Linked DNA regions of Homo sapiens: regions 1 and 2 are each linked to region 3. The links come from fine-mapping of genetic effects on gene expression. A gene starts in region 3. Each other region holds a variant in brackets. All regions are shown on one strand. Distances are between the middles of the regions.

The links. PIP is the estimated chance that this variant, and not a neighbour inherited with it, causes the effect.
Region 1: its variant is the best candidate, but not a certain one, in a credible set for the expression of PM20D1 in amygdala (GTEx, PIP 0.57).
Region 2: its variant is the best candidate, but not a certain one, in a credible set for the expression of PM20D1 in visceral fat (GTEx, PIP 0.84).

What each region holds. Positions count from the first base shown.
Region 1 is chr1:205,890,966-205,896,197 of GRCh38, forward strand. It overlaps PM20D1-AS1 (PM20D1 antisense RNA 1), which reads left to right. Exons shown (of 3, transcript NR_046097.1): 2 at 191-344; 3 at 3,203-5,122. Among named protein-coding and RNA genes, the nearest start is that of PM20D1-AS1, 32 kb to the left of the region's middle. The variant G/A (reference allele first, on the strand shown) is at 2,095.
Region 2 is chr1:205,884,032-205,889,263 of GRCh38, forward strand. All of the region lies in intron 1 of PM20D1-AS1 (PM20D1 antisense RNA 1), which reads left to right. Among named protein-coding and RNA genes, the nearest start is that of PM20D1-AS1, 25 kb to the left of the region's middle. The variant A/G (reference allele first, on the strand shown) is at 2,170.
Region 3 is chr1:205,847,196-205,852,427 of GRCh38, forward strand. It overlaps PM20D1 (peptidase M20 domain containing 1), which reads right to left and starts at 2,937. Exons shown (of 13, transcript NM_152491.5): 1 at 2,709-2,937; 2 at 690-776. The coding sequence starts at 2,877. RefSeq lists an enhancer at 2,866-3,160.

The sequences.
Region 1 (5,232 bases), 44 kb after region 3:
GCCCATCTCTTCATTTCCCATAAGGAATAATTTTAGTTAATCTAATATCTATAGAAAGAATGCTAATGACTAGCTTGCTGTTAATAAATACATGGGTAAACCTCTGTTGGAGGCTCTCAGCTCTGAAGGCTGTGAGACCCTTGATTTCCTACTTCACTCCTCTATATTTCTGTGTCTTTAATTCCTCTAGTGCCACTGGGTTAGAGTCTCCCCGACCAAGCTGGTCTCAGCAAGTGGTCTCCATCATGGGGGCTCGAATCCAGGTTGAAGGGTCACCAGAGTGATGGTTGGAGAACATGGAACTAGCTGGAGGACACCTGAGTACTCTTAAAGCAAACCCCGTGGTGAGTAAGAAGGGGAGCTCAGAAGCATCAGGGTAACAATGGGACAAGTGTGGGGTCTGGTTCGTTCCATCTTGGAACTTTTTCACACTGATGATGAGGAAGAAGGAGAGTATAATGAAGTAACAGAAGAGGTTATAGAGCAGGTTTATTTGCCAGCTAAAGCTAAAGTGGCAAAGGAGGGAGAGGTTCATCCCTACCCTTCTGCACCCCCTCATTATTATTTTGAAGAAAAAGAGTGGCCTGACCCTCCAGATCTTTCTTTTCCAGAGGACAGTGGGCAAAAATTAGTTGCCCCAGTGACTGTTCAAGCAGCACCTCGAGCGACTGCTCTTAGTTCTATTCAGTCAGGAATTCAGCAAGCTAGATGAGAAGGTGATTAAGAGGCTTGGCAGTTCCCTGTTAGACTACACTGCCCAGACCAACAGGGAAATATTGTAGCTACATTTGAGCCTTTTTGTTTTAAATTACTCAAAGAATTTAAACAAGCTATTAATCAGTATGGACCAGGTTCTCCTTTTGTAATGGGACTATTAAAGAACATTGCTGTTTCCAGTCAGATGATTCCTACTGACTGGGACGCTCTTACTCAAGCTTGTCTAACTCCTGCTTAGTTCTTACAATTTAAAACTTGGTGGGCAGATGAAGCTTCCATTCAGGCTTCTCACAACACGCAGGACCAACCTCAAATTAATATAACTGCAGACCAACTTTTGGGGGTTGGCAGTTGGGCTGGTTTAGATGCACAAATGGTCATGCAGGATGATGCCATAGAACAGCTTAGAGGAGCGTGCATTAGAGCTTGGGGAAAAAAAATCACTTCAAGTGGAGAACAATACCCTTTCTTTAGTGCTATAAAACAGGGACCAGAAGAATCATATGTGGATTTTATAGCTCAGTTACAGGAGTCTCTTAAAAAGATGACTGCAGATTTGGCTGCTCAGGATATAGTGTTGCAATTATTAGCTTTCAACAATGCTAATCCTGATTGCCAGGCTGCTCTGTGACCTATCAGAGGGAAAGCACATTTAGTTGATTATATCAAGGCCTGTGGTGGTATCAGAGGTAATCTGCATCAGGCCACCTGCTAGCACGGGCAATGGCAGGACTGAGAGTGGATACAGAAAGTACTCCATTTCCTGGAGCTTGTTTTAACTGTGGGAAGCATGGTCATACTGAAAAAAAAAAAAGTAGAAAAAAATCAGCAAGTCGGGCCACCAGATAGGGGAAAAAAGAAAACTGCTGAGCCTGAAATATGTCCAAAATGTAAAAAAGGAAAACACTGGGCTAATCACTCTAAGTTTGATAAAGATGGGAACCTGATTTCAGGAAAAGCCATGAGGGGCCCATCCTGGGCCCCATTCCAAACTGGGGCATTTCCAGCTCGGGTCATTCCCTCACCCCTGTACAATGCCTGTCCCCCACCACAGCTGGTAGAGCCACACTAGATTTATGCTGCAGTAGATTTATGCTGAGTCTTCTGCCTGGGGAACCCCTGCAAAAGGTCCCAACAGGAGTCTGTGGTCCCTTGCCAGCAGGGACAATAGGATTAGTTCTAGGCAGTTCTAGTTTAAATTTAAAAGGGGTACAAATACATACAAGAGTCATTGATTCAGATTACAATGGGGAAATTCAAATTGTTATATCTACTTCTGTTCCCTGGAAAGCAGAGCCAGGAGAGTGCATAGCACAGCTCCTGATTGTGTCATATGTGGGAATGGGAAAAAGTGAAATTAAATGAACAGGAGGATTT[G/A]GAAGCACAAATAAACAAGGCAAAGCAGCTTATTGGGTAAATCAAATTACTGATACACATCCTACCTGTGAAATAACTATTCAGGGAAATAAATTTAAAGGTTTGGTAGATACAGGAGTGGACATTTTCTCTACAGCACTGGCCGTCTGCATGGCCAATTCAACCCACTCAATTCAACTCCAATAGTTGGAGTTGGTAAAGTCCCTGAAGTATATCAAAGTAGCTATATTTTGCATTGTGAAGGGCCTGATGGACAACCTGGGACTATTCAACCAATTATAACTTCTGTACCCATAAATTTCTGAGGAAGGGATTTATTACAACAATGGGGAGTACAAGTTCTAATTCCAGAACAATTATATAGCCCTCAAAGTCAACATATGATGCATATAATGGGGTATGTTCCTGGTATTGGACTAGGAAAAAATTTGCGAGTTTTGAAAGAACCACTGCAAGTGGAAAGACAAAATTCCTGCCAAGGCTTAGGATATCATTTTTGATGGCAGCCATTGTTAAGCCTCCAGAACCTATACCTTTAAAATGGTTAACAGATAAGCCAATTTGGATAGAACAATGGCTGCTAAGTAAAGAGAAACTGGAGGCTTTAGAGAAATTAGTTCAATTAGAAAATGGGCACATAGCCCCAACATTTTCTGCTTGGGATTCTCCAGTTTTCATAATTAAGAAAAATTCAGGTAAATAGAAAATGTTAACTGACTTAAGAGCCATCAATTCAGTTATACAACCTATGGGAGCATTACAGCCAGGATTGCCTTCTCCTGCTATAATTCCAAAAAATTGGCCTTTAATAGTCATAGATTTGAAAGACTGTTTCTTTACTATCCCTTTGGCTGAGCAAGACTGTGAATGGTTTGCATTTACAATTCTTGCAGTAAACAACCTGCAGCCTGCTAAGCATTTTCATTGTTTTACAGATGGGTCTAGTAATGGTAAAACTTCTTATTCTGGCTCAAAAAGTAAAGTTTTCCAGATGCCCTATACTTCAGCTCAAAAAGTGGAGCTTGTAGCTGTAATTGAGGTATTGACTGCTTTTGATATGCCTGTTAATGTGATTTCTGATTCTTCATATATGGTTCTTTCCACACAGTTAATTGAAAATGCTCAGTTACGATTTCATACAGATGAACAACTGAAGACAAAAACAACAAAGGGGGAGAAAGAGGGATTATGGGACAGCCCATATACAATTGAATCTAGCATTATTAACTTTAAATTTTTTGAGTCTGCCTAAAGGCCAGATGTTATCAGCAGCTGAACAGCATTTACAGAAACCGGCTGCAAAGACAGAAGCAGAACAACTGGTTTGGTGGAGAGATCCGATAACAAAAAGTTGGGAAATAGGTAAAATAATAACTTGGGGTAGAGGTTATGTTTGTGTTTCTCCAGGCCAAAATCAATAACCAATTTGGATACCATCAAGACACCTGAAACCTTATCATGAGCCAGATGCTGAGGAAGAGATTCCAGGAGGATCCTGAGGACCCCCTGGTTGCAGCCACGTCGAGGCTGACACTGAGGAGGACCCCAACTGTCATGAGCAACACCCGTCGAACACAGCCATCCACCTGGGGACAAATCAAGAAGCTGTCACAGATGATGGAAGAAAACCTGAGGAAAGCGGGACAACCAATCACAATGAGTAATTTGGTGATCTATCACAGTGATGATCACCATTGCCATGAGTATTCCTTCAACAAGGGCTGACACAGAGAACAATTATACTTATTGGGCATATTTATCAATCTTGTCTGGCAATAATGCCTAGATGATTTCACTCTATGGCACAGTTACACATGCTTTCTGATCTCAGTATTTACCATAATAAATCTGCTCCTATAATTGAGGCATACCACCCTCAAAAACCTATTTGTAAACAAAATAGAACCTGGCCAGAAATAATGAACAACTTGTTTAGTAAGATTGCATTGCAGAACAGGCAGAGATGCTACGCAATGATTCCTATGGGATCATTGATTGGTCCCCTAAGGGGATGTTTAGCTTAAATTGCACCTCTCAGTCTGCATGCCATGGCCACACTAGTTCAGATGGTCTGAACAAAGTGGTCAGATGGCAGAAATGATAAGAAGTATGGCAAAAGTTCCTATTGTCTGGAACCATGGCAGTATAGTGTCACCTCAACCTCAAATGATATGGCTCATTGTAGGAGCTAAACATAAGGATTTGTGGAAACTATTAATAGCTCTTAATAAGATCAAAATTTGGGAAAGAATAAAAAAAGCATCTAGAAAGACACTCTACAAACTTGTCTTTGGATATTACAAAATTAAAAGAACAAATATTTAAAGCATCCCAGGTACACCTGACCTTAATGACAGAAACTGGAGTGCTTGAAGGAGCTGCAGACAGATTAGCAGCTAGTAACCCATTAAAATGGATAAAAACACTTGGAAGCTCTGTGATTTCAATGATGATTGTGCTTTTAATCGGTATTGTTTGTCTTTGTATAGTGTGCAGATGTGGATCCTGACTCCTGTGAGAAGTAGCTCACAGTGTCAAAGCTGCCTTTGCTTTTATCGATTTGCAAATCAAATAAGGGGGACATATTGGGAACAGCACCCCCCCCCCCAAAATCTGGCCATAAACTGGTCCCAAAACTGGCCATAAACAAAATCTCTGCAGCACTGACATGTTCATGATGGTCTTAATGCCCACGCTGGAAGGTTGTGGGTTTACCAGAATGAGAGCAAGGAACACCTGGCCCACCCAGGGTGGAAAACCACTTAAAGGCATTCTTAAACCACAAACAATAGCATGAGTGATCTGTGCCTTAAGGCTGTGCTACTGCTGCAGATAACTAGCCCAACCCATCCCTTTATTTCAGCCCATCCCTTCGTTTCCCATAAGGGATACTTTTAATTAATCTAATATGTATAGAAAGAATGCTAATGACTGGCTTGCTGTTAATAAATAACGTGGGTAAATCTCTGTTGGAGGCTCTCAGCTCTGAAGGCTGTGAGACCCCGGATTTCCCACTTCACACCTCTGTATTTCTGTGTGTCTGTCTTTAATTCCTTTAGCACCACTGGGTTAGGGTCTCCCCGACCGAGCTGGTCTTTGCACTTCTCACTTCTGGATATAGGCCTCCCTAGAGGGTTT
Region 2 (5,232 bases), 37 kb after region 3:
ATGATCTGTCCAGGGACAAGAGTAGGGTGTTGCAGTCCCCAACTGTTATTATATTAGGACCTGTCTCTTCCCTTAGATCTAATAATATTTGCTTTATTTGTATGTGAGTGCTCCAGTGTTGGGTGCCCATATATTTACAACAGTTATATTCTCTCATTGAATTGACACCTTTGCTGTTATATAATGTCCTTCTTTAGCTCTTTACAGCTTTTAACTTGAAGTCTGTTTTGTCTGATATAAGTATAGCTACTCCTGCTCAAATATGGTTTCCTTTTGCATGGAGTATCTTTTTCTATCTGTCCTCTTTCAGTCTGTGTGTCTTTAAAGGTAAGCAGCATATGACTGGGTCTTGTGTTTTTATCCATTCAGCCAGTGTATGTGTATACATATATATATATATGTGTATATATATATGTGTGTGTATATATATATATATGTGTATATATATACATATATATGTATATGTATATATATACACATATATATGTATATGTATATATATATACACATATATATATATATATACACATATATATATATATTTTGTGAGCAACAAGGCTGTTTATTTCACCTGGGTGCAAGCAGGCTAAGTCCAAAAAGACAGTCAGCAAGGGTGGTGGGATTATCATTAGTTCTTATTGGTTTGGGGATAGGCGGTGGAGTTAGGAGCAATGTTTTGCAGGCAGGGGGTGGATTTCACAAAGTACATTCTCAAGGGTGAGGAGAATTACAAAGAACCTTCTTAAGGGTAGGGGAGATTACAAAGAATCTTCTTAAGGGTGGGGGAAATTACAAAGTACATTGATCAGTTAGGGTGGGGCAGAAACAAATCACAATGATGGAATGTCATCAGTTAAGGCTGTTTTCACTTCTTTTGTGGATCTTCAGTTGCTTTAGGCCATCTGGATGTATACACGCAGGTCACAGGGGCTATAATGGCTTTGCTTGTGCTCAGAGGCCTGACATTCCTGTCTTCTTATATTAATAAGAAAAACAAAACAAAATAGTGAAGTGTTGGAGTGGTGAAAAATTTTGGGGGTGGCATGGAGAGATAATAGGCGATGTTTCTCAGGGCTGCTTCAAGCAGGATTAGGGGCAATGTGGGAACCTAGAGTGGGAGAGATTAAGCTGAAGGAAGATTTTCTGGTAAGGGGTGATATTGTGGAGTTGTTAGAAGGAGGATTTTTTGTATAGAATTATTGGTAATGTCCTGGATGCGGTTTTGTATGAATTGAGAAACTAAATGAAAGACACAAGGTCTGAAGAAAAGAAGGAGAAAAATAGATATTGAATGACTAGAAATTGGGAGTGCCCAGGATGTCCAATTAGAGTGTCCAAGGGGATTCAATGTTACTGTTTTCTTGATTGGTGAGTTTTTTGGCTCTATCCTTGAGTTTTTTTATACCATGCCAGATTGATTTAGATAAAAACAACACTCTTCATTTAAAAATATACAGAGTCCCCCTTCCCCTTTTTTTTAGCAGTGAGTAAGTCAGGGCCTTGGTGATTTTGGAGGAAAGAGAAATGCAAAGCCAGCAATTGTTTGTTAAAGAAGGATTAGAAATGGCTAGGAGAGAGTGAGTTTGATAGTGTGGTGGAGATAGCTGGGGAGAGGTAGAGGGTGGCATAAGAATAGGAACCAGAATAAGAGTGAGTATAAAAGTAAAGAATAGGACTTCATCAGGGTGAAAGTATTGGAGTGTACTTTGTCAATGAAGATCTTCTATCCACTTAAACAGAGACTTAAGGGTGGCAGTTTGAGGTAAAACCAGGCACCACTGAATACCAAGAGCCTGAGAAACTGCTTGGGTGATTGGACTAGTAAAGGCCGGTCTGTTATCGGACTGTATAGAGGTGGGAAGGCCAAACCGAGGAATTATGTCTGACAGAAGGGAAGAAATGACCATGGTGGCCTCCTCAGACCCTGTGGGAAAGGCCTCTACCCATCCAGTGAAAGTGTCTACCCAGACCAAGACGCATTTTAGTTTCCTGACTCAAGGCGTATGAGTAAAGTCAATTTGCCAGTCCTGGTTGGGGGCAAATCCCTGAGATTGATGTGTAGGGAAAGGAGGGGGCCTGAACAATCCCTGAGGAGTAGTAGAATAGCAGATGGAACACTGAGAAGTGATTTCCTTAAGGATAGATTTCCATGGTGGAAAGGAAATGAGA[A/G]GTTCTAAGAGTCAGGCTAGTGGCTTGTAACCTACATGGGAGAAGCTATGAAATGACGACAGAATAGAATGGGCCTGTGAGGCTGGAAGGAGATACTTTCCTTGGTCCAAGAACCATTTGCCTTGTGTGGGAAGAGATTGATAGGTGGAAGTTTCAGTGGGGGAGTAGGTGGGAGTGACCAGATAAGAAGGAGAAAAGCTGCTGTGAGGGATAGAAGTTGGAATGCTAGCTGCTTTTTTAGCTACCTTATCAGCATAAGCATTGCCCTGAATGATGGGATCTGATGCCTTTTGATGGTGCTTGCAGTGAATGACTCCAGCTTCCTTTGGAAGTAAAGTGGCCTTGAGAAGAGTTTTTATTAAAGAGGCGTTAATGATGGAGGACCCTTGCATAGTGAGGAAACCTCTTTCAGACCATATAACAGCATGGTGGTGCAGGATATGGAAGGCATATTCAGAGTCACTATAAATATTGACGCAAAATTCCTTTGCAAGAGTGAGGGCTCAAGTTAAGGCAATGAGTTCAGCTTGCTGAGAGGTAGTGGAGGGGTGCAGAGTGGTAGCCTCAATGATAGATGTGGAAGATACTCTAGCATAGCCTTCCTTTGCTGGTGAGTGGAGATTAGGCCTGGTGGAACTGCCATCAATAAACCAAGTGTGATCAGGGTGAGGAACACGAAAGAAGGAAATACGGGGAAATGGAGTGAATGTCAGGTGGATCAGAGAGATACAGTCATGGGGGACAGTTGTGGTATCAGGAATAATGTGGGAGGCCAGACTGAAGTCCAGGCCAGGAACAATGGTAACTGTCGGGGACTCAACAAAGAGTGAGTACAGCTGAAGGGGCCAGGGAGCAGAAAGTATATGTGTCAGGTATGAGGAAGAAAATAGATTTTGGAAGTTATGAGAACTGTAGAGGGTGAGTTGAGCATAGTTTGTGATTTTGAGGGTCTCTAAAAGTATTAGGGCACCAGCAGCTGCTGCATGGAGACATGATGGCCAGCCTAAAACAGTAAGGTCAGGTTGTTTGGACAAAAAGCCTACAGGGTGTGGTCCTGGCTCTTGTGTAAGAATTTTGACCGCACAGTCCTGTACTTTGGCTGTGTGTAACGAAAAGGGTTGGGATGAGTTAGAGAGAGCTAGTGTGGGGGCAGCTTCTAGGGCTGTTTTTAAGGAACGGAAAGGGAAGTGGCAAAAGGATTTAGGATCTATGGGGTCAGCTAGGTTTCCTTTTGTGAGTTTATATAATGGTTTAGTCAGGATGGTAAAACTAGGTATCCAAAGGTGGAAGTACCTAACCATGCCTAGGAAGGGAAGAAGTTGTTATTTTGTAGAAGGGGTTGGGGTTTGGGAGATTGGCTGGACATGATCAGCTGGGGGAGCACGTTGTTTTCATGAAGAATTATGCTGAGATAGGTAATGGATGAGGAAGAAATTTGGGCTTGACTGAAGTAATGGGGGCTGTCCATGAAGCCTTGTGGCAGTACAGCCCTGGTAAGTTGCTGAGGCTGATGGGTGTCAGGGTCAGTCCAAGTGAAAGTGAAGAGAGGCTGGAATGAAAGGTGCAAAGGAATAGTAAAGAAAGCATATTTGAGATCTAGAACAGAATAATGGGTTATGGAGGAGTTGTGGAGGGAGGCATTGAGGATAGGAGAGTATATGGTTTTGGCACCATGGAGTGGATAGGCAAGACAATTTGGTCGATAAGGCACAGATCCTGAACTAACCTGTAAGGCTTGTCTGGTTTTTGGACAGGTAAAATGAGGGAATTGTAAGGAGAGTTTATAGGCTTTAAAAGGCCATGCTGTAACAGGTGAGTGATAACAGGCTTTAATCCTTTAAGTGTGCTGTGGGATGGGATATTGGCATGATAAGGGTGATTATGTTTAATGGGATAGTAATGGGTGTGTGATCAGTTGCCAGTGAGGGAGTAGAGGTATCCCACACTTGTGGATTAAGGTGGGGAGATAACAAGGGAGGATGTGAAGGAGGTTTTGAACTGGGGAAAAGGGCAGCAATGAGGTGTGGCTGTAGCCTAGGAATAGTCAGGGAAGCAGACAATTTAGTTAAAATGTCTTGACCTAATAAGGGAGCTGGGCAGGTGGGGATAACTAAAAAGGAGTACATTAAAGAATATTGTCCAAGTTGGCACCAGAGTTGGGGAGTTTTAAGATGTTTAGAAGCCTGGCCATCAATACGCACAACAGTTATGGAGGCAAGGGAACAGGCCCTTGAAAAGAAGGTAGTGTGGAGTTGGTAGCCTCTGTATTGATTAAGAAGGGGACAGACTTACCCTCCACTGTAAGTTACCCAAAACTCGGCATCCGTGACAGTTCAGGGGGCTTCTGAGGTGATTGGCAGTGTCAGTGTTCAGCCACTAAGCCAAGAAGACCTGGGAAGGAGACAGTCAGAGCCTTGGGCCAGTTGGACAGTCCAATTTCCAGTGGGGTCCCGCACAGATGGGACACAGCTTAGGAGGAATCCCAGGCTGCAGGCATTCCTTGGCCCAGTGGCCAGACTTCCAGCACTTAAAGCAAGATCCTGGGGGAGGAAGTCCTGAAGGGATGCCTGGCTGCTGTGGCTTAGGCATTTTGAAGTTTTTGTGTGCTGGAGATATGGCTGGGGTTTCTCTCACAGCAGAGGCAAGTAATTGCAACTCTTCTCTATTATCATACACCTTGAAGGTGCAGTTAATTAAGTCCTGTTGTGGGGTTTGAGGGCCAGAATCTAATTTTTGGAGCTTTTTCTAATGTCAGCAGCAGATTGGGTAATAAAATGCATAGAGAATAAGATAGCCTTCTGGCCCCTCTGGGTCTAGGGCAGTAAAGCGTCTAAGGGTTGTTGCCAAATGGGCCATGAACTGGGCTGAGTTTTTATATTTGATGTTAAAAACTGATTTGGGAGAGGTCGGATAAAGAAAAAAAGGAGCATTAACCTTGACTATGCCTTTAGCTCCAGCCACCTCTTTAACAGGAAATTGTTGGGCAGGTGGGGGAGGGCTAGTTGCAGAACGAAACTGTAAGCCAGATTGGGTGTGAGGAGGGGAAGTGATAGAAAGATTATA
Region 3 (5,232 bases):
TGTCCCAGGGTGTTAGAGAGGGGGCTGCTTGCTGCTCCTAGGCCACCTTCTCCCACCTCTGACAACTTTGGAGGGGTTGTTTTTAATTAGATTTAGGAAGGTAATCTCATCACTCTCCATGAGATTTTCATAAGGGGAGGGAGGAGTTCCAAGAATCCTTTTTTCCTCTGACCCATCCTTCCTCAGCTCTGTACTCAATGGGTGGTAGGGATGAGGGAAAAAGACTGATGTTATAGCTCAAAGTTGTTGACTGCCTAGAGGCCTAGAAATGTGTTAGTAATGAATCTGGGGTAGGCCTGAGTACGTGGAGTGTATATGTACCGGTGTGTTTGGGTGTGTAAGGAGGTAGGGGTGGGAGGAGCATGGAACATAGTTCTGGGCAGTTGCACAAGTAGAAGGAAATCCTAGTTCTACTTTTTGATGATTTAACATTTATTGAATGACACACATGTAGGGCAAAATTTGAGAGAGTTTGTACTCTAATGCAATGGCTGGATGAACTCTCAATCTTTGCCCTACATATGGTGGCTTAGTTTTTCCAAGAGCAAATCTACAGTCTCTACTCTGCCTATGGGAATTAGATTGTCCTCTGATCAGTCGCAAAATAAACTTCTTTATCACTTTGTAAAAGAACTGTGTCTCCATTGCTATTTCTACCACCCACCCCTTGCCCCTGATTTGCAGCTGACCTTTATGAATGTATTTTCCGAACTCAGCCAGGGCTGTAGTATTGGACTTCTCAGAGCTAAAAGTCACTGTTGGAATCTGGATGGCACCTGTCAGAGTCAAATAGAGATGAAAGATTGAAAATGAATTAGTCATTGTTTTTTTCTACAGTCCTCTGTGCACAAAAAGTTCTTTTGCCTTCATTATCATATTGCAGAGGGCAAAACACTAATGTGAGGTAGGCGCTATTGTTTCCTCTAATTCGAAGATGAGGGAAAATGCTTGGAGAGGTTAGGTGAGCTGTCTGAGCAACAGGCAGACTATAGATTTAAACCTATGTCTTCTGGGTTTGTTTAGGCTGATATGGTTCTTAAAGGCAAATACAGTCTAAGATTGGAGGGAAGTGGATTTTTGGATCCTGGTCTTGAAGGGAAGCTACTATAAATTGCTTCCTAAGGCCTCACTACCTCTGAAATCACCAATTGCTTTGATGAATCCAAGCTTCATCATTCTCAAGGCACCCACTGTCCTGGGTCCCTACATCAATGAGGCTTGTGTGTTTTTGTATGTAAAGGCTTATTCCTTATGCAGAGTCTCACTAGTCTGTCAACCAAGACCAGCTTTTTGGGCATATAATGCCTGGGAAGGGGTGGATTTAGAAGCCTCCAAACAAACTCCTCAGTCCTAAAATAATCTCACCCTCCTTACTCAGTTGTCTCAGTTCCTGAACCTTCACTGGGCTCATCCCTTTGAGTCTTTAAGACTTTACAGTTTTAAAGAGTTCCATGATCAAAGACAAAACCACTGGGAGGGAAAGCATGAATCATGAGAATATTGAATTAGACTGCTCTCCAAGAACACAGTGCAAACAAATTCACCTGAGGCAGGAAGGGTCTCTGAAAGACAAACTTCATCAGTTTTGCTAAGGATCAACCCTACAATAGCATAGCCCACCAGATAGATGGGGAAGCCGAGGTTCAGAAAGATTCAAGTGCCTACTCAAGGGCAGACCCAAGGATCTGATCTCAGGTGTTCTGTCCCCTGCTCAGAGTTCCAAGCTGTGTTGCTATGAGGTCCCTATTCTAGCTTATGTAGCTTTTGTTCTCTTCTGTGCAGACTGTGAGTGGCTGTCTAATGCCTTTTAGAGAATTATTTATGCTTTGGGAAAGCCCTGCTCTGCCTCCCAGGCTTGTCACTCTAGCATATGAACAATCTATATCCAACTATTGGGGTTAGCTTTTGGTCCCTGCATCTGCTTCTATATGTTTATGCAGGCAGTCTCTCTTAATCCATTACTTAATGAAAGGGAAAAGACTGGAGCTAAGCTGAATGGTAAAGAAGGATTTCATCCCATAGGATCTAGCACTCAACAGAAACTTTCCTGTTTCCTGGAAAATGCAGATTCAGAACAGGGATGAATTTTTGGTCTGGATTAGAGATCTAGAGGAGACATGTTCTTCAATTATGATTGAGAATTAGGAACATCCCACACCCCGGGAACACTCCACTCCCTTTCTTTAGAGCCATCTGATCCCAGCGAGTCCGACAGGCACTAGATGCTGTCACCCACTGCCCACTCTTTGCTGTGGGGCCCTGGGGAAGATCATTTAGCTGACCTAAGCCTCAATTTCTCTCCTTTGTAGATAAGACTAATATCATTTGTCTTATTTTACGACACCGCAGTAATTTATCAGGCATGCAAACTTTCAAAGGTTAAAATTGATGTACAAATGAAAGCTGGTGTAATACTCGAGGCAAGCAGGGGAAAGAATGGACGGTGGTCACGCCAAGAGGGGTGAAGTTGGAGCTTCCAGGTTAGGCAGGGCACACCAGAGTTCCAGGAGCCAGGTATGGGGGAAGTGTGGCGTCCCCAGACAGGGGCACGATGTGCTGGGAAGGGTGTTGGGGCCGGGCTGGGGTGCGTGTCGGGGCTCCAGCTGCAGTAGCAGATGCTTTGCGGCGGAAGCGGGGAGTCACGGGTTGACCTGGGGAGGGAGGGACCCACATATGAGCATAGGTGGGTGAAGGGGACCCGGGTTCACCTTTCAGCGCCTCTTTCATCGCGACGCGTTCCTCTTTGCTGAACTGAGAAGGGATTCGCGACGCCCTTTGATGCTCCCCGCTCCTCGGGCCCATCGATCTGGAGACGGTAGGGAAAACTAGGAGCAGCATAGCCACCAGGGCCAGCACGCAAACGCACCGCTGAGCCATGCTTCTCTCGAGCTCCTGCTGTCAGGCTACCGGGGTAGTTCTGACCTAAACGCCCAGACTAGCGTTTCTTGGCCCTAGCTCTGCTCTTATTCCGGCAAACAGCCTTAGCCACACCCCATATCCAGATCTGACCAATCATCGCTTCGCTAGGACAGCGGAACAACCAATTGACAGAATGACCCCGCCCAGGATCCTTAAGGCCTTTCGAGGGTTGTGGGTTTTCGTGCTGAGGCCAGCAGTTCCTGCAGAGCAGAGGTGAGGTCGGGCTCCAGGCTAGAGTCATGTCTGGTCCGCACTTGATCTCTCACCCATAAATCCTTTCCTGTATGACAACAAATCAAATAAAGGAGGAAAAGCAAAATAAAATGCACGAAGCTTATCAGACCATACTCTGCTGCTCGTTTTTTCCGAAGCTTAGAACCTGACTACAATTCCCTAGATCCTGGGGCGGGGGAGCTCTCTAGGTTCCCAGCTTGATTTCATCTGAAATTGGAACAAATTGCTCTGTTTATAGATACTGCTTTGAAATACCAGCTCAGAGGGTTGGCTCCTGTTTAGAAATTTCATTGAAAGTGCTTTTAATATTAATGTTAACACTACATTTTTGCAACTCTAGACAAGTACAGTAAGACTGAAGGATTTTTAGAAAGATTACTATAAAATATTTAAGAGAATTTTGATGTATAAATAATTTTGATGTATTCCACAAGTGAAATTTTATGGTTATTCAGAGTAGAGGATCATTCTGGAAAAAAGAAAACCTGTCTTATGTCACAGAAATATAAAATCAGATTTCCTGAAGCCAGAATAAATCGTTCCTTTCAGATTTCTTGATGCAATTTTATCTGGCATCACTCTCAAATTTTAGAATTCTCAAGAAAAATTCAGTAAGTGCTATACAACCAGTAAGGCCATATTGCTACCTGTGACCAAAGCTACAGGTTCACAGTCCTGGTGTTTGCATTTCATTTAAGATTTGCTTAAAAAAAAAAATTCAGCCATGTAGTTACTTTTCTTTTCTTTTCTTTTTTTTTCTCTCTCGGTGCCCAGGCTGGAGTGCAATGGGGCGATCTCGGCTCACCGCAACCTCCGCCTCCCAGTTTCAAGCAATTCTCTGGCCTCAGCCTCCCAAGTAGCTGGGATTACAGGCATGCACCACCATGCCTGGCTAATTTTGTATTTTTAGTAGAGATGGGGTTTCTCCATGTTGGTCAGGCTGGTCTCGAACTCCCGACCTCAGGTGATCTGCCCACCTCGACCTCCCAAAGTGCTGGGATTACAGGCGTGAGCCACCACACCCTGCCTAGTTACTTTTTAATAGCAACTTTAAAACAGTATCATGAAATACTTCACATATTATAAAGATATAAAAAATAACATAATGAACATTTCTGGATTCACCACCTAGTTTAAGATTTAGAATGTTAAAAATAGAGTTGAAATTTAAACATGAACATTGACATAATTTTTAGTAAAAAGTAGCTTAATCTCTACCTAACTTTAAAATTTTTTTAAAAGAGACTTTTTATTTTATATATTTATTATTTTTTAAAATTATTATTATTTTTGTAGAGATAGGGTTTCACTATTTTGTCCAGGCTGCTCTTGAACTCCTGGACTCAAGCAACCCTCCCATTTAAGCCTCCCAAAGTGCTAGTATTACAGGAATGAGCCACCACACCCAGCACAATTTTTATGATTGTAAAATTCATGTATATTTATGCCCTTGTGAAATATTTGGAACATTAAGTATAAAGAAAAAAATCACATGCTATCCCAATATCCAGAGACGTTCACTCATCATATTTTGATGTTATCCAATCTTTTTTCTCTGCACACAAATACCCACAAATGAAGGATGTCCCTGTTTTAAAATGAAACAGATGCATATACTGCATCCAAAGTTCTATGTTCTGCTTTTTTTCCTTTAACATTATGTCATAAACACTTCCTGGTCCTTAAATATTCTTTAAATTATCTTATCACATAATATTTGATAATTAAGAGTACGTACAACGTGTATGTAAAGTAAATAATAACATGAACACCCGTGATTTGGAGTTTAGACCTAACTGGTCAAACTGCATTTTTTCTCCTGTCACTGCTCCAATTCTTGCAATCTGTCTAATTCCCACACTGTTCCCAGATCTAGCCAATCATGGAAAATTATCAGTAGCATTGAAGGTGCATGTGTTCTATTGCCTTTATTTTCCAACTCCCTGCCCAAGGTAATTGTATGACCGTGTTGTGTGTTTTAAATAGTTCTACAACATATGTATGATATACATATATGTATAGTGTGTGTGTGTGTGTATATCTTATAAAAATGACATCATGTTGTGTGTAGTCTTCTGC